Linked DNA regions of Homo sapiens: region 2 is linked to region 1. Evidence: fine-mapped expression QTL. A gene starts in region 1. The other region holds a variant in brackets. All regions are shown on one strand. Distances are from middle to middle.

Region 1 (9,749 bases):
CCTATACACACACTTTCAATAAGTATGTACCATTTTTGTAATTCTTGTCTTTTTTTCTATTTTAAATTTGTTCTGATAACATTGATTGAAATATAATATTTTGTCTAGGGGCCGGGCACGGTGGCTCATGCCTGTAATCCCAGCACTTTGGGAGGCTGAGGCGGGCAGATCACGAGGTCAGGAGATTGAGACCATCCTGGCTAACACGGTGAAACCCTGTCTCTACTAAAAATACAAAAAATTAGCCGGGCTTGGTGGAGGGCGCCTGTAGTCCCAGCTATTCAGGAGGCTGAGGCAGGAGAATGGCATGAATCTGGGAGGCAGAGCCTGCAGTGAGCTGAGATGGTGCCACTGCGCTCCAGCCTGGGTGACAGAACGAGACTCCATCTCAAAAAAAAAAAAAAGAAATATAATCTTTTGTCTCTTGAGTCTGGTAATAAAACATTTGGGCTTGTATTTTGTGTGCCTTTGCTTTTTAAATTTTATTTTTCTAGTAATTTATTTCTACTATATTTTAAAAAGTAACCTTCTGCAATGGATTTGAAATTTTAACACAAAAGCTGGTCCTTCACCACAGATGCTTTGCGAAGCACTTGTGTGGGGCACCTGGATGTGGACGGAGTACTCTGTAATAAATTATCTACAACAGAAGATTTACATCTTCCTAGGTAAATGTGTGAAATTCCTTCATTCTTTATCTTTTGTAACAGTGACAATGTTGACCTTCCAGATGCTCTGGAAGGGTGGGAAAGGGAGGGGTGACTGGCAGGGCTGTGACATAGTGGTGTACATATTCCATCATTCCCTTTGCTTCGCTCCTTCTCTTTCAGGTCTCCAATAGAGGAGGCTGGCTCCTTCTTACAGAGCCTCCAACAACGATTATATTCTGGGCTTCAGCATCCTTCGCTTGCCTGTACATTAGCTTTCTTATTTTATTTTATTTTATTTTATTTTATTTTATTTTATTTTTGAGACAGAGTATTGCTCTGTCATCCAGGCCGGAGTACAGTGGCGCGATCTCGACTCACTGCAACCTCCGCCTCCTGGGTTCAAGCAATTCTCCTGCCTCGGCCCCCCGAGTAGCTGGGACTACAGGCACACCCCATCACGCCCGGCTAATTTTTGTATTTTTAGTAGAGATGGGGTTTTACCACATTGGTCAGGCTGGTCTCGAACTCCTAACCTCAGGCGATCAACCCACCTTGGCCTCCCAAAGTGCTGGGATTATAGGCGTGAGCCACTGCGCCAAGCTTGTACATCAGCTTTTTGTCCTCTGGAAATGTGTTGAAATTTCTTGTCTACTGATACCCTTCCATGCTTTTTTTGTTGCATGAGTTTATTCCTCTTTGTATTTCTACGTTGTCATTTCATTGGGGTCTCAGGAGGGACACGAGGTAAACACATATGTTCAGTATGTCATCCTGAACTAGAATAGCCAGGTTTTGGTTATGGAAAATAATAATGCTGAATGTTTTTTGTCTAAGCATACATTTTCATTTCTCTGTGTAGATATTTAGAAGTGGATGTATTTAACTTACTGAGTCACTGACAAACTGTTTTCCAAAGCGACTGTATCTTTTCTACATTCTCACCAGCAATGTATAAGGATTCCAGTTCCTCTAAATCTTTACCAGAATTCAATATTTTCAGTTTTTCTGATTAGAGACATTCTAGTATGTGTGTCATAGTATCTCAGTATGGTTTTAGTTCGCATTTCTTTAAGCACTGATAATGTTGAGCAACTTTTCATATGCTTATCTGCTATCATAATATATTCTTTGGTGAATTATCTGTTCATATCTTTTGCTCAACATTTTGAATTGTCTTTTTTTAATGGAGTGATAAGAGTTCTCTATTCTGATGCAAGTCCTTTTTCAGACACATGATTTGCAAATATTTAGTCTTAGCTTGAGACTAAACTTCGCATTTTCTTTTTTCTTTTTTTTTTTGGAGACGGAGTCTCGCTCTGTTGCCCAGGCATTACAATAATAAATTTCCCAATATTAAACCATTCTTCAATTCCTAAAGTAAATTCTATTTAGCCTACTCTTTTAATATGTGGTTAAAATATTTTTATAATATTTTGTGATTTTACACCTATATTCATAAAAAGATCATAGCTTCGCGTCTTTTTAAAGGTTTTTATCTTTTGTTATTAAGATTGTTCTTGCTTCATAAAATGAACTCAATAATTGTCTTTGTTTTTTCTCTATGTTTTAGTACAGCCTGAATAGCCTATGAATGATGTATTATCACAGAATTTAAAGACATTTACTTCTAAAGCCCCTTAAGTCTAAAATCATGGTTCTCAAATCTAATTGCATATTAAAATCACCTGGAGAGCTTTAAAAACTCTCAATGCACAGGCCACACCCCTGATAAAAGAATTCAGAATCTCGGATGTAAGGATTTTTAAATGCAAAATAAAATGAAAGGCTCAATAGTTTATAAAGTTTGTGCTAGATCTAATCTTTTCTGGTTTTGTCTGTAATTGGTCCAATAGTAAATATTGATTCATCTGTAATTGTTCTGACATCAACTAATGGTGTCCATAGCAATAGCACTACAAGCCAGTTTCTCTGCCTTTATCTCGCTTTAATTGTACACAAAACTAATAAGGCAAAGCACGTAATATAATAACTATTTTAAAAGCAAATGAAACAAACTTTGGAAGGTTAAGTGGCAAAGCCGCTTGACTCCCATCACTTTGGCATTTCAATCAATAATAGAGTCTAAAGACCAAACAATAAAACAATGGTTAACATAGAAAAAAAGAAATACGAGTTCATTAACTAACCAGGAGATCTTATTTCCAAAGAGTAAATCTGATTACATTGTTCCTGTTTAAAACCCTTCAATGGCTTCCTTATGCCTAAAAGGAAAAAAAAAATCCAAATTCCTTTGTGTGGCATAAGAGGTTCTTTGTGTAACACAAGATCTGGCCCCTCATCACCTCTCCAGTCGTATTTCTCAAAAGACCTCTCTTGCTTCCTATACTCAGTCATGCAAAATGTTCTGCAATTCTCTGAATGCCCTGGCTTTTCTTTTCCTTTTTGTGCCCATGTCTGTGCCCAAGTTATTTGCTTTTTCTGAAAGATCTATCTTTCAAAACCTTCTTTTCCCTCCCTCCCTCCAACCCTGTTGACCAACTTATCTTTTAAAGTCTGATTCAGTTTCAGGGCCATCTCCTCCGAGACCTTCCTTCCTGACTGCTTCTCGAGTTCCCCTATAAAACAGTGACTGCCCAAAGAGCAGCAACAGTTTGTAAATCATTCCATTCATGCTGCCTAGAACAAAGCTGCAGTTGTGTTTAGTAAAGGTTTATCAAATGGATGAAGACTGGTCACTATTAGTCTTGACCCCTTCTATTTGAAATATGTGAAATACACAAAGTAAAATATAATTTCTGATAGGGGCTGATATCAGGAACTGTAGGAGATCTGTCCATTGAACCCAAGGTCTTACCTATTAAATCTCTACTGTTGCCAGTCTGCGCTCCTGGATTTTCAAGGGGCTCCGTGGAATTGGGAGGCTGATGAAGCTGGTGACCACCCTCCGTAAGCATGCTGTGTTGGTGATTCCAGTGCTTACTCCTTTCCTCAAATGTGGTCATAAGAAGTCAGGAAAGTCAATATGCTTTCACTAGGAAAAAAGGAGGAAAGCCTGCTTTAGTTGGTTGTTACATTTTTGATGAGGCGAAAATTCAAACAAAACTGTAACCACAAGGACCATTAATTGTTCTTTCCTGCTAATAACCATAGTTAGCCAATTGGATTGTGAGTGTGTGGCATGCTTGTATTGTGTATGTGAGTAGGGAATGCACGTGCGTTAAAGTTCACATGTGCTTAAGAGCTTAGACACACCCGCAATTTGCAAGACAGCTTCATGTCCTGATGTGGCCAAAGCTGTGTAAGAAGCCTGAGCTGTAATTACTCCGCACAAATTTACATCCTGGGGTACTCACATCATCCTGTGGTCTGTATGCTCTGTGGCTACACACCTGGCTGAGAACAGAATTAATGATGAGAAACGTGCCTGCTTCTCTGCATAAAAGATGATGTCTGAGTAGAAGGTCGCCAAGGGAGGATTAAGAGCAAGAATGCGAGAATGTGCTCAGGAATCCGTGCGTGAGATGATGAGCTTGTGAGCTGATGTTGATTCTGTGCAGTTCCCAGTGTCTTATTCACAGGCAAGATTTTCTTGCTCATCGTTCAGCCTTCAATGTTTTAAGCAAAGATTTTTAAAAAGATCTAACAGGAAACGAGGAGCTGCAGTGAAGCTTGGGCAGTCAGTTCGAATCTGAATAAATATTTGTCAGATTGGAGAAGCGCTGAAAGCATTAAGATACTTGGAGATTTCTCTTTTTCTTTGGCAAGAAGCATGACTGAGACAGGTAAGGGCTAGGAATTCTTCCGGATCACTCCCTCCAACAATGGTCTTTCCTTTGAATTTGCACTTTGGAGTCTGACACAGATTAGTGCTTCCTAGTCCTCTAACTGTAACACATGCCTCAGTTTCCCTTCTCCGATAAGATTGCAATATCTTTGGGTGCAGGAAAAAAAATAGTTGATCCTTTTCTTTGTAGCCCAGCAAGTTCCAGGCACATTAGAAACTGATTAGAAACTGGTACACAAGTGTTACTTGCTTAATTTATTATAAATGCTTTAAAAATGAGGCAATGACTATCATTGAAAAATAAAACCAAACTGTGAAGAACTTCTCTCTTCCTGTTAGTGGAGACTTTCCACAGAATTTTTTTTTTTTTTTGGGAGGCAGTGGACATGTTGAGTTTTCAATTGAATATTTTGCTGCAAACAACTTAGGAGGAGAGGAAAAAAGAAAACGCAAAGCCAAACAAAGCTGGTATTTTTCAAGTGCTCATTAATTTCAAAACCACGGTGTCTTTCATTGATTTTTTACCATTAAAAAGGACAGCAATGCCCATCTGCTCAAAATTCCATCCAGAAATGAAATTATGAATTAAAGCTGTGTTACACATGCACAATTGAGACATCCTCTGTTTGGGCCTGCCAGATGACACACTGAAACAGCCTGGGGTCTGCACTTGGGGTGCTGCCAAGGAAGCAGATACACGGCTGATGAAAATCATCCATCATTTCAAATCAGAGGTGCCATATTCCTGCAGACTCCTGTTATGAACAATCTCATTTGATCTTACATTGGAACAAGCTGTCTTCAACACTCAGGCCTGGCCCCAGGCACAACGAGGCAGATGGAATAGGAATCTCTCATTCCATGCCTGCATTTGCCGGAATTCTAGGATTTTGTCAGAAGTTTTCTTGTGTGAACCTAGCCTGACAGGATTAACTTCACTGAGTTGTGCTTCAATATCAGTTCTTACCTCCTTCAATTTGTGCCAAAACTCTCATGGAGGACAGTGTTCATCATTTTTTCACTTAAAACCATATATATGAGTCATTATATAGAGCGATTCTTTTTAGATTCAGTTTCCGGGAAAAAAATTAAAAAGTCACATGATCTTTCTGTCTGCTAATGATATTATGCACGTTGCTCTTGTCTCTATTTTTGCCTTGGCCTCCAGGAAGCTCACAGCCACGTTTTACACTCAAATACAGAAATAATATTACCATATGCTAGTATTACCGTATTTGTGATACTCTTTTCTGTTGATCCTTAGTTTCCATTTCCATTCTTCTTTTATTAAGCCTAACACGTTTTTTGTTGTAAGCTATATCAAAATCATTTTGGAGAAAGGCCAGGCTTATATAAATGATAAAGCATAACCATCTTTTATTTCCCAGCCAAGTGGTTTGTGTTTTAGAGTATATACTTTTAGAAGAAACAGATTGTTTCTTTAAACAGATGAAAATCAAATATCTTCCTTCTTCATGAAGTTAACCACGGTTAGATCATCCACATTGATACAGATGCCTGATAAAAGATCAGGATTGCGTTTGACAACCAGGTTTCTCTTACACATTCTCAGCAGCTTTCAGTCTCTGAAGTTTTTAGTCTTCTTTATTTACTACATTAATCTTGAGAGTAAACAAGGTTCTTATCAAAAATTAATATTTTAATATTAAAAGAATTTATTAGAAAATAATTTATTTAATCTTTTAATATTTAAAAGATATTAAATAAGTTTACAAAGACAACAGCAACTAAGAATGACCATGACTGAATAGAGCAAAACTGTACTAAAATACAACAAATAAAATAAAGGAATATATCCGTGAAATGTTAAGAAAGGCACTGGCCCAAATAATCAGTACTGAGACTCCATCTTGGGTTTGCTTTAAAGCCTCTAGCATGAAGCTGATGGCTGCCCAGTCATCTCAAGGGGCAGCACTGTCCCTTAGGAGCTTACAGTTGAAGCCGACTAGGCAACCCCTAGCCTTGGGCAGAGCTGAAACTCAGCACTTACACACAGGACTGATGTTATAACTCGGAACACAGACTCCTCAGTTTCCTTTGATGCTTTTTTTCTGAGGGCCACTCACATCCGTCTTCTGTCTTCTTTCATGATCCTATCTTAACAATCATGTAAACTCAATCCTTTATCAGACACTCAACAGAAGCAGACTTTGTCAATTACTGGTGGAGAGAGTGTCCTAAAGAAGCTATCCATGAAAACAAGGGTGACCCGGCAGGCTTCACGAAGCCTTCACGAAGCCAGAGGGCAGGGGACATCCACCCTCACTCAGGACACCCTTGGGGCACTCTGTGCATCACCCCGCACAGCTGCTACTAATTAAGCCCTTCTGGGCACCATGTGTTTCCGTGACCTGCTCTTCCTGTGTCTTGTACTCATAATTTTTTCCCATCACATCACATGATCCTGCAGTTTCGGGACAATGCTGACTTCCTCTGCCATCCTCCGCAGCACACAGTGGGGCTCCTGCCACCCCGGGCCTTCTTGTGTCCTAGCTGAGCTGTGGACGGCCCTGCTCTCCCACCGGATCCTCCTGGGTCATGGAAGGATTCTTTGGAGACATGATCAGCTTCCTTACCCACCACCTGTGTGCCTTGGGCAACTGGAGTTCTCAAGCTCCAAGGCCTTCGTTTTCTCAGCTGCAAAATGAAGAGACTGGAACAGCCTCCTGTTTTGAAGAATCCCACCTGAGTTTATATCAGAACAATCTGAGATAGATATATAGATATAGATATATATCTTTTTACATTTTTTAAATGTTCTTTCCCCCAAAACCATGTCCTTTAAGTGGAGGAATCTATTTTTTAAAAATGATGTGGTTGTGCCCTCCAGTGGTTGAGCGTGAAGTCATCAGGCTGTTCGGGTGACAGCAGGGCTCGCAGGAAAGCGCAGGCCGTGCTAAACCGCCGAAGGACGAAGGTGGGTCTAAAGATAGATGAATCTGCTACTCCGGAAAGCACCGAATCGCCGTGTAGACCGGTCACCAAGTATAACTGCGAGCCCCAAGGCGTCACCAGCATGGGCATCCCAGCCTCGGTGCTTCAAGTCCTACTTCTGCTTGGCTATCGGGAAAGGCACGGCTTCGGGGCCACTTCTAGGCTCTCAACACGCGGCCGCTGCTGGGAATCCTGGCGGCCGCGGCTCTTCGCTCTCCAGTGGACCCAGTACTCCGAGAAGCCGCAGAGGCCTGGCCGCTGCAGCCTGCTCCCGACACCCGCTGGTCCGCCCCTCCCGCTCGGCTGCAGGGCTGGGGCGCCCACAGGCGGCAGCCGTCAGCCCGCGCCCGGAGGAAGCCCACGGCCGCCCCGGCTCCCCGCCCGCAGACGCAGCTGCGCAGCCTAGCGGGCTGGGTAGCGGGACAGCAGCGCACGCTGCCCGCTTCCGCTCGCTCCCCCGCGGGCCCTGCTCGATCGTCAGGGTTGCTGCAGGCGGAACTGGAGGAATAAACGCAAAGCCCCAGCCCCTCGTGAATTTCAGGGCCCCTCTCACGTGCAGGGTGTTCCCGCTTATTTCCAGACTCCTTGGATGCAAAACAATGAGTGAAGAACTGACAGTGAAGGCGGAGGGACTTACCTAAGTTATGCAATGATAAATAAATGGCAGATGAAAAATGGGACCTTTGGTTTCTAGTCAAAGTCCTTAGGAAGCGATTCGGCAGACGCAGGCCCAGGTGGCGAGGAGAATGGCCCCTTAGCCAGCTTTTAGGGTTCCGTGAGGGCTGAGCTAGGAGGGAGAGAAAAGGTTAAAGACCCTTCCGGTCCTTAGCATCACCACGAATGAACGTTTACCGAGCACTTACTTTATAAAGAGCACTGTGATAGATGCTGGGGAATATTCAGAGGAATAAATAGGACAATCTCATTTTCCAGGTCTACATTCACTGGAAGGGTCCCCTCCTGCAGGAACTCATTACTGGTCAACCACTGTGCCCTGTATGAAATCTACATGCTGTAGATTTCAGACATGTTTTCTGCCTCCGAGAGATTTATATGCTAGCAAACAAAAAAAGACATATATATAAGGAGATAAATAATAGCCAAGATATTTTTTGAAAAGTATTTGGGGTAAAAATACACATAAAAACATTTACCATCTTAATCATTTGTATGTGTCCTCTTCAGCAGTGTTAAGAACATCCACACCATTGTGCAGCCACACTCCAGAACACTTTTCATCTTGTAAAACTGAAACTCCACAGTCATTAAACAACATTTTCCCATTCCCCTTCCCCTAGCTCCTGAAAAACCACCATTCTACAGATGCTCCTTGACTTATGATGGGGTTAGGTCCAGATAAACCCACAGAAAGTTGACAATGCATTCCATGCCCCTAACCTACTGAACATCACAGCTTAGCCCAGCCTACCTTAAACGTGCTCAGAACACTCACAGTAGCCTACAGTTGGGCAAAATCACCTAACATAAGGCTTATTTTCCAATAAAGTACAAAATATCCCACGTAATGTATTAAATACTGTACTAAAAGTGAGAAGCTCTAATAGTAAGTGCTCAGTAAATGCTCAGAATGGTTCTATGGTGTATTAGTGTGTTCTCACACTGCTGATACAGACATATGGGAGATTGGGTAATTTATAAAGGAAAGAGGTTTAATTGACTCACAGTTCCACATGGCTGAGGAGGCCTCACAATCATGGCAGAAGGCAAAGGAGGAGCAAAGTCACATCTTACATGGCGGCAGGCAGGCAAGGCAGGCAGGCAAGACAGAGCTTGTGCAGGCAAACTCCCATTTATAAAACCATCAGATATCATGAGACTTATTCACTATCATGAGAACAGTATGGTGGAAACTGCCCCCATGACTCAGTTATCTCCACCCTTGACATGTGGGGATTATTACAATTCAAGGTGAGAATTCAAACCATATCATATGGGTACTCAAAGTACAGTTGCTACTGAATGCATACTGATTTTTCACCACTGTAAAGTAAAAAAACCATAAGTCAAGCCATCTTACGTTAAAAATGGTTTGTACTTTGTCTCTATGAATTAGACTATTTTAGGTACCTCATATAAGTGGGATCCTACAGTATTCGTCCTTTTCTGTCTGGCTCATTTAACTTACCATCTTCAAGTTTCACTCATGTTGTAGCACGTGTCAGAAGTTCCTTTCTTTTTAAGGCAGAATAATATTCCATTGTCTGTTTATAGCGCATTTGTGTATCCATTCATCCATCGATGGACACTCGGGCTGCCTCCACCTTTTGGCTGTTGTGAATAATGCTGCAGTGAACATGAGTGTGAAAGCAAACATTTTCAATATTAGTTGGAGTGTCTGCTTTCATTTCTTCTGGGTATACATCCAGAAGACTCTATGG
Region 2 (9,749 bases), 17 kb before region 1:
ACAGCTAATCTCTATTGAGAGCTTTCTCATAACCAAGGCTTTCCTAAGAGCTTTCCATGAATTAACTCATTTACTGTGTATAACAACCTTACTATTGACAGTCTGCCTTCAGATCCCAGCTTTGTGACCCAAGGCTTTGTGACTTGGAGCCACTTCACTTCTCTTGGCCTCAGTGCCTTCAATTATAAAATAGGAAAAATAATCATACCCGTTTCTTACCATATTTTATGTGTGCTCTCATTTAAGCTCATGGTAGTCCTGTGAGGTGCAGAGATGGAAGAGATGAAAGCTTGAAGGCTTGAGTTTCTGATAAAAGTTTAAAGGCCTGGAGTAACACCCCACAGCTAGGAAGTGGTGAGTCTAGTACCCCACCCTCACTGCACTTGAACCAGAGCGTGCACACTCCCAGCCACTAAGCATTCGCCTGAGTGGAGGCTGAAATGATCTGCTGTCTGCAGTAAGGCCACAGGAAATGCTCTTGGAACCTGGTCTCCATGAGATATCTATCAGGAACTTTTCACAACACCAGAAATGAAGGAAATTCTCATTTTTATTTTGATATATTATAAGCAAATATGTACGTTTTGGCACAATGAGAAATGTTTAGGAATTTTGACTAAAAAATTCTTTCTGGCAAGATTCTTTAGCCACTGAAATTTTAAGTGGTACTTACGGTTGTATGTATCTGACTCGCATCTGGGTGGCTACAACCAATTACCAACTACTGACAGCAAAAGAAAGACTTGCAAATATGATTTCACATCTGCATTTTTTATTTTATATTTAGCTCTTTGTCTTATCATGTTTGTCTAACTGTAGCTCTCTCTCTCTCACTGACAGGGTAATGTCTTTAAAATCTCACTACACAAAGTACTGGCTTTGTGAAAAGGCTCTGACCTATTTTGCCCTGCCTGGATTGGTTTTAACATCATGTAGATAGTAAGTAACAAACTCATTAAACCATTTCCATTCTTGTCTTAGGGGACAACGTGGTGCCCTCCCCTTTTACATGTTGCTTCTCTTATCAGCTTCACTGGCTTTGTCTACTAACCCCATGCCTGGGGAATTATAAGGAAGGGATTCGGGCACCGTGTTGTCTGCGGCATGAATCTTGCCAGGCTGTGGCTGTCACCAAGGTTATTGGACACTCCTCCCTGAGCAGGACCCACCTGGGAGGCATGCAGATGACAAGTGCCACTCAACCTTTTCCTCAGTGCCTGCTGGGCCCCGTGTGCATGTTCAGGTAATGAGAGGAACCTCGGAGCAAGTGGAGTAAGTGAGTGTGGTCACTCCAACAACAGACCAACCCATGAGAGGTCTGATTTCACGTTAAAATGGGAAATATTTGGTTGAATGGAATTGACGGAAAGGCAGGAATAGCCTTTCTCATTCCCTCATGGATAGAAAAAATGCACAAACCACGTTATCTGTTGGGTTGCATGGAATCGCTCTGACTGTTTTATTACCACCATTCACGTAGCATTTTATGTGAAAGGGAATGCTGGGCGCAGTGGCTTACGCCTGTAATCTCAGCACTTTGGGAGGCCGAGGTGGGTGGATCACCTGAGGTCAGGAGTTCAAGACTAGTCTGGCCAACATGTGGAAACCCTGTCCCTACCAAAAATAATAATAATAATAATAATAATAATAATAATAGTAATAAATTAGCCAGGCGTGGTGGCGGGAGCCTGTAATCCCAGCTACTGGGAGGCTGAGGCAGGAGAATTGCTTGAACTTGGGAGGTGGAGGTTGCTGTGAGCTGAGATTGCGCCACTGCACTCCAGCCTGGGCAACAGGGCACCACTCCGTCTCAAATAAATAAATAAATAAATAAGAAAAAAAGAAAGGGAATGCAGGTGTGAAAGCTTCCGATTCGTCACCTAGCAAAATTACACTGAAAAGTCCCCAAGCTCTTTGAACCAACTGCAAGGTCGTCAGCTTGTAGCCTCAAGTCCTCATGATCTATCCCATTACTTCATATCTCAAAAAGTCTTAATATGTGTTTTCCACAGTGATGGCCTCTCATTGGCCACCATGTCACTCTCACCTCAGGGTAAAGAGGTTGTGTCATGCGGCTTAAAACCTGGGCACATAGATGGTTACTTTGGCAGCGTTCTTATATAAACAGATGAAGACAGCTGATAACATTAGCAACTTCCTGTGTCATCTCGTTTTTCTCGGGCACTTGCTTCTCTGAGATTATTTATGTTTTCTGTATTAGTCCATGGCAACCGCTTAACACAGCTGCACCAAATGTCATTCCCAGAAAGATCAGTTGCTTAGTCTCCTTGCCTCCATTCTATTTTGGGAGTGGCATGGACTTTTGGCGATGCCCAGTTGAGCTCTTGTCCACATCAAGTTATGAGCGGTGGTTTGTAAGAGAGTTTGCCCCTTGGCCTTGGTCTTTAGGAGAAAAAATAAATTCTATTCATTTACTCACATGCCATCATTACTCATATTTAAATTCTAAAAGATTAAAAACAAGAAACATTTTTTTCTGCATTAAGAAATCTAAAGTTTTAAAAAATCTCTAATAATGAACTGAGGTAATACATGCATTGATAAACAAAATGGAAATAGTATAGAAAAACAGAACTGATAAACTGATAAAAACATAACTGATAAACAGCTGCCTCCATTTCACACTTCCTCACCCTAGCAACTCCTAGATCATCCCAGAAAACATTTCTACTTTTATTCCTGTTGGTTGCCTACAGAACTCTAAATAATATATTTTCACATCTCTTCTTTGACCTTTTTAAAAATTAGCCTTTTTTTTTTTTTGAGACAGAGTCTCATTCTGTCACCCAGGCTGGAGTGCAATGGCATGATCTCCGCTCACTGCAAGCTCTGCCTCCCGGGTTCACGCCATTCTCCTGCCTCAGCCTCCCAAGTAGCTGGGATTACAGGTGCCCGCCACCACACCCGGCTAATTTTTTGTATTTTTAGTAGAGACGGGGTTTCACCATGTTAGCCAGGATGGTCTTGATCTCCTGACCTTGTGATCCCCCCGCCTTGGCCTCCCAAAGTGCTGGGATTGCAGGCGTGAGCCACTGCGCCCAGCCTAAAAAATCAGCCTTTTTTTTAACACAGCTTTATTGATGGGTAATGTACATATCATAAAACTCACTAAATGTGTAATGAAATGAATTTTAGCAAAGTTACAGAGTTGTGCAAGCATCCCCACAGCCCAATTTTAGAACACACCTATCACTTCAGAAGATCCCTCTTGACCACTTGCAGTGATTTCACTCTTCAGTCCCAGCCACAGGAATTCCTAATTTCTTTACTGGTTCTATAGATTTGCCTATTGTAGACATTTCATAAAAATGGAAATAACCAATCAAATTCAGACAATATTTATTGACTTTCTGATACAAAAGATAAAGATTTATCTCGCTTATAGAACTGCCTTCCCTGTCTCTATTTTCCCCAATTTTTGGTAATTATATATTATTTTAAAAATTCCTATGTTGGCTTTTTTCTTTTTCAGACGGTCTCACTCTGTCACCCAGGCTAGGATGCAGTGGCGTGATCTCGGCTCACTGCAACCTCCGCCTCCCGGATTCAAGTGATTCTCCTGCCTCAGCCTCCCAAGTAGTTGGAACTACAGATGCACACCACTGCGCCCAGTCAATTTTTGTATTTTTAGTAGAGACGGGGTTTCACCATGTTGGCCAGGCTGGTCTTGAACTCCTGGCTTCAAGTGATCCGTCCGCCTCAGCCTCCCAAAGTGCTGGGATTACAGGCATGAGCCACCGCACCCAGCCTATGTTGGCTATTTTTGTCATTTTAAGCAATATATTCCTTCTATTTGTGTGCGTGTGTGTGTTGTTCCATAAGCCTCTGTCAACGTCTTTTGCCTCCCTTGCTCCATATAAAATGCCTTACATTCCTCCCTCTTTTCCCCTACCCTTATTCATGGAATAACTGTGAATCATTGTTAGGACTTTATTGTTATGAAAGCCAATAATCTTTTATCTTTTATTCTACAACT[A/T]CAATTAAGTCTTACATGTCTGTAGGTTGATTCTAAAAGTAGAAAACTAGAGCAGCCTTTATGATTTTGTCTACATTGCTCAATGTAGAGCCAGGGCTGTGCCAGGATGCCATTTCCTTCCCTCCATGTCCTGTGCATCTGTCATGGTGCTCCTGGGGCGATGCTACTCACTTCATAGTTAAGCAGGCTCCCTTCCCACATCCTTCATCAAATGCTCCATGTCACAGTAAAATAAGGGTCACACGTGAGCCATTTCTTTATACCTTGTTTTAGATGATTTTTCCTCTAGTTTTAGATGATTTTTTTATCCTTCCTATTGGAAAAGGATAAAAAATCTTAGGAACTTCCATTGTGTCCTAAAATTTATCTGCCTTCCAATCACACTACCATGTGAAGTCCTTCTTCCCCAGAGTCCTTAATTGTTCTGAATTTAAGTGGATTTTCTCTGGGCTGAATGCACAAGCCTTCAGCCTGAGTCTTCTGTTCACTGGGTTCCTGGAGCCAGTGCTAATCTCCAAAATGTGTCCTTTCTTGGTTTCCATCTTCTTTGACTGGAGTATAACCTCCAGTAAACTCCTGGGGAGGGGAAGAAAGGTATGAGAGAGGTGAATTTCCAGTATCGCATCAAATGTATTATTTTCTCTTTCATCATTTATTGTTTGTCTACACCTATTATTGAACTTTCAAAATTGTTTTCCCTCTGAATTGGAGGGTATTGCTTCAATGTTTTCTAACATTTTGTGCTGCTGATAAGAAAACTCTGCTGCAGTCTAGCTCCTGCTCCTTAGCTGCTGGGCTGTTTTTTGCCTTTGTAAGATTTTTAGGATCTTCCATTTATTGTTAGTTACTGTTCTGAAGTTTCACAAAGATGCATTTCAGGCTTCTTTATTTTTATCCTGCTTGGAATTCAACCTCAAGACATAACATTTTTAGTTCTGAGAAAAGTTTTTAAAAAATGATTTTACAAAAATCACACACAGACGCACAGATGATTTCCCTTCATTTCACTGCTCTCTCTTTTAAAAACTCTTGCTGGTCTAATATTAGATATCCTGGATTACTTCTTTCTTGTAGTTTTTAAAAAATATTTTCCTATCTCACTCAGGAAATATACTTTTTCACCTTGTATAAGTTATTTTTTATCAATTTTAAAATAATTTCTTTGAAAGATTTTTTGGGGGGAAGCAATCATATTTTTCATTTCCAAACAATTTTTCTGTTCTCTGATCTCTTTTCAAGACATTCTGTCCTGGTTTTTATGTTTTAAATGAAAAATTACTTGAATCAGATAAATTATTTAAATTCTCCTTTGTCATCTCTAATGACTCAATTCAATTTTCTTTTAAAGAATTACTTTATGGGGGGCTGGGAGGTGGCTCATGCCTGTAATCCCAGCACTTTGGGAGGTCAAGGTGGGCGGATCACTTGAGGTCAGGAGTTTGAGACCAGCTTGGCCAACATGGCAAAACCCCATCTCTACTAAAAATACAAAAATTAGCTGGGCATGGTGGCAGGCACCTGTAATCTCAGCTACTCGGGAGGCTAAGGCCTGAGAATCACTTGAACCTGGGAGGTGGAGATTGCAGCGAGCGGAAATCACGCCATTGCACTCCAGCCTCGACAACAGACTGAGACTACGTCTCAAAAAAAAAAAATTCTCATCTGTTATCTGAATATTTTTCTTTTTCTGGTTTTTTTCTTTTTCTTCTCTTCAAGGTCACTTGCTCTGTTTACTTTCTTTTTTTTCTTTTCTTTTCCTTTCTTTTTTTTTTTTGAGATGGAGTCTCGCTCCCATCATGTAGGTGGAGTGCAGTGGCATAATCTTGGCTCACTGCAACCTCCACCTCCTGGGTTCAAGCGATTCTCCTGACTCAGCCTCCCAACTAGCTGGGATTATAGGCATGCGCCACCACACCCAGCTAATTTTTGTATTTTCAGTAGAGATTGGGTTTTGCCATGTTGGTCAGGCTAGTCTCGAACTCCTGACCTCAGGTGATCCACCTGCCTTGGCCTCCCAAAGTGCTGGGATTACAGAAGTGTGCCACTGCACCCTGCCTGACTTTTTTCTGAATTTGTTTGCTGATCCTTTCTTTTGTTTTTCAAGGTCTTAAAAACTTTTCTTTTGAGCTATTGACAGCTTTAACAATTTAGTACACTCCTGTGAACAAAATTTGGAACACATTTGTTTCTCTCTACCTGATTTCTCCAGAATTGTAAAGTACTTGCGAGTATTCTTAACTTACAGCAACACAGTTATTTGCATAAGTGCAATAAGAATCTGTTTTCATTTTAACAGGATGCAATTGGAGAAATTGGTTCTTTTACCAAGGCTTTGACTGGAATGGTGTGCTTTCCTTTAAGGAATCAAACTTGACTTATAGAGCCAATAAGACCTTGGAAAAATTAGCCTCATATTTTGTGTACACACTGTATAGGGTTTCTGACCCATGGTAAGTAAAGAATGTCACTTACTGACAGGCACAGAAGTCCCAGGTTTATCTTGAAACCCTGACAGCAGGAAATTTCACCCAACTCATGGGTATTTGATAGCACAATCCATGGCTGGGCTGGGCTTTAAGAAGTCTTATCTGAGATTCCTCTTATGGAACAAAGTTCCATCAAAGCCAATTTAAAAGCCTATGTAAAAATAATAATTATTTTTGCTGCACTGCATACAAATACTTAGGCCAAGTATAATAACCAAACCAGCCCTACCATGATTTATCTTTAGTAAAATGGGGAACTGGAGAGAGAAAAAAATTATTTCAAAATGATTATATATCTGTTGTTAGATTCTAGTCTTGCCTAATGTTTTTTTCCAATTTTTATTATTTTCTACAGTTTGGACCAAATTCTAATTTTTCTTGGCTACAAGTCTTCAAAATAATGTTTTCAATTTTTTTCCGTCTCTTTTTCATTTTTCCTAATTTGAAGTCACTGAAAACTAAGTTGTTCTTCTTTAAAACCCTGCAAGCTGGCCGGGCGCGGTGGCTCACGCCTGTAATCCCAGCACTTTGGGAGGCCGAGGCGGGTGGATCACGAGGTCAGGAGATCGAGACCATCCTGGCTAACAAGGTGAAACCCCGTCTCTACTAAAAATACAAAAAAATTAGCCGGGCGCGGTGGCAGGCGCCTGTAGTCCCAGCTACTCGGGAGGCTGAGGCAGGAGAATGGCGTGAACCCGGGAAGCGGAGCTTGCAGTGAGCCGAGATTGCGCCACTGCAGTCCGCAGTCCGGCCTGGGCGACAGAGCGAGACTCCGTCTCAAAAAAAAAAAAAAAAAAAAAAAAAAAAAAAACCCTGCAAGCTGAAGACAGACAACTTAAACTTCGGCAGAAAATAACAGTAACCTGTTTACATACATAAGGCACTTTCATGCCTGCCTACTAATGTATGGACTTCAGAGTAATGTGGCCCATATCAAATTTTTTTTTTGAGAAAGGGTATCTATCACTCTGTCACCCAGGCTGGAGTGCAGTGATGCGATCTTGGCTCACTGAAACCTCCGCCTCCTGGGTTCAAGCGATTCTCCTTCCTCAGCCTCAGAAATTTGAGACAGGTCTCAGTCTCAAATTTCTGAGGCTCACACTCCTATGCAAGGAAGGAAGGCAACATGTTTTCTAATGCCACATGAAATTAAAGCACAAAATGAAACTTGGATGCTTGAAAGAACAGACTTTCTGTAAGTTATTGTGACATGCTCCATAGTTTATTGACAGCAGAGTTGGTGATGATATTGATATTACACTGTCAAAATGTATCACCAAACATCTTTAAATTTGATAAAAGATTGTGAATTTTTGTTTTCTATCAGGAGAAGACAACATATAGGAAATTCATGGATCCAGAATCCATTTCTTTCATCAAAAGATAATTTAAACTTAACTATAATTTATGGATAAATTATTGAATCTGACTACTAATGAACAGTAGAAGATGAATTTAGAAATATAGTATCATTTACATTACTTTGAATGAAAGTTTAAAAATGAATATTCTGAGCTTAATAAAATGTTTTAAAAATCTCTTCTTCCACCTTATCAACATAATTCTGTGAGGCTAGTTTTGTACAGTGTAGATTATAAAAACACAACATTAAAATAGGTGACAGTAGTAAAAATGGCAGATTAAGAACATCCAAAATTTTGTTCCTTCGTAACAGTAATGAAAAAACTGGCAAAGAAAAGCAGAATCCATTTTTTCAACTCTCTTGGCATTAACCAAAGACTTTCAGCCATCCAGGGAGCATTTATTCAAGAAAAATATCTGAATCTTGGTAAGAACTGTAATCTTTACAACATTTGAAACTTACCTTAGGCCCATCTCCCACTCTTCAGCTCAGCAATAGCCTAGAAAAATAACAACTGCATTCCAGTATTAAAGGATCAGAACAGAGCTGGAGCTCATTCAAAGCCTCAGTCCCAAAGAACTGACATTGTTTGATCCATCCTTAGAAGGCTCCACTGAAAAGGTACATTTTTACTTGATGTGGTTTGAACTTGCCAAGTGTAAAAAGTCTCTCCCAGGGGTTAAGAGGCATTTATTGAAAATAATTTTAGGCACGTCTTTTAACTATCAGGCTGCATGAGATGGATGATAGTGCAAACAATAGACTAACCAAGAAGATTAAAGGGAAAAGCTGTGGAATAAGATGTCCATAGGAGCTTTGAAATGCTCTGACATATTCCTGAGAATTTGGAAGGTCAGGGGCATATGTAGGCCTGTGGGCATTCTGAAGAAAGAGCTGAGGAGGCCTGAGCTCTCACTTCTTGGTGACCTTAAGGTTCTGCACAAGCAGAAAGTAAAGGCTAAAACAGCATTGTGAACTGCCTGGTGGAGTGTTAAAGGTATGATCCAACATGTATATAGTAACCCATGGCAAAGATTTAGAGGTTTATTGGTTCCAGCATTTAAAGAAATCTCTGTTCAATCATTAGATGTCCAATCACTAAGCTAATTGATAACTCCCATGACCACATATAATAAACAATACATACTTTATAGAATTAGTTCAGAAAAGCCATGAAATAAATAAAAACAACATTTAAAAGCAAGGAGCAACAACACAATTCAGCAGGGAAGAATATGATTTTCAGACTTGTAATATTATATTTTTTTAAATGTCAAAATTTCAACATAAAATTGTGAGACATGCAAAGAAACATAAAATTATGTCCCATACACACACACGGAAAGCAATTGATAGAAGTTGGCCCTAAGAGGCCCAAATGTTGTGCTTACTAGACAGAGAGTAAAATTAGCTATTTAAACATATGTTCAAAGAGTTAAAGGAAACTATGTCTGAAGAACTGAAGCAAAGAATGATGTATTTGTCCATTTTCACAGTGCTATAAAGATACAACTTGAGACTGGGTAATTTACAAACAAAGGAGGTTTTATTGACTCACAATTCCACATGGCTGGGGAGGCCTCAGGAAACTTAGAATCATGGCAGAAGGGGAAGCAGGCACCTTCTTCACAGGGCAGCAGGAGAGTGAGGGAGAGACAGAGCAATGGAGGAACCATCACACACTTATAAAACCATCAGATCTCATGAGGACTTTCTCACTATCATGAGAACAGCATGGGGGGAACCGCCCCATGATCCAATCACCTCCCACAAGGTCCCTTCCTTGAAACTTGGGGATTACAATTCGAGATGTGATTTGGGTTGGGGCACAGAGCCAAACCATGTCAAAAGATAACTATGTTTAACCAAATAGAGAATAAAAATGGGTCAAAATTATTTAAAA

Which allele goes with the higher level. Positions count from the first base shown, and alleles are read on the strand shown. Sizes are in standard deviations (SD) of each study's normalised expression.
As copies of A replace T in region 2, the expression in left ventricle of the gene that starts at base 4,644 in region 1 goes down (large effect, 0.85 SD a copy in GTEx).

The links.
Region 2: its variant is fine-mapped to the expression of LINC00327 in left ventricle (GTEx, PIP above 0.99).

Annotation. Positions count from the first base shown.
Region 1 is chr13:23,464,407-23,474,155 of GRCh38, reverse strand. It overlaps LINC00327 (long intergenic non-protein coding RNA 327), which reads right to left and starts at 4,644. Exons shown (of 3, transcript NR_038995.1): 1 at 3,965-4,644; 2 at 3,466-3,642. RefSeq lists an enhancer at 7,314-7,473 and a silencer at 7,584-7,863.
Region 2 is chr13:23,481,059-23,490,807 of GRCh38, reverse strand. It overlaps LINC00327 (long intergenic non-protein coding RNA 327), which reads right to left. Exons shown (of 3, transcript NR_038995.1): 3 at 3,344-4,573. Among named protein-coding and RNA genes, the nearest start is that of LINC00327, 16 kb to the right of the region's middle. The variant A/T (reference allele first, on the strand shown) is at 3,998.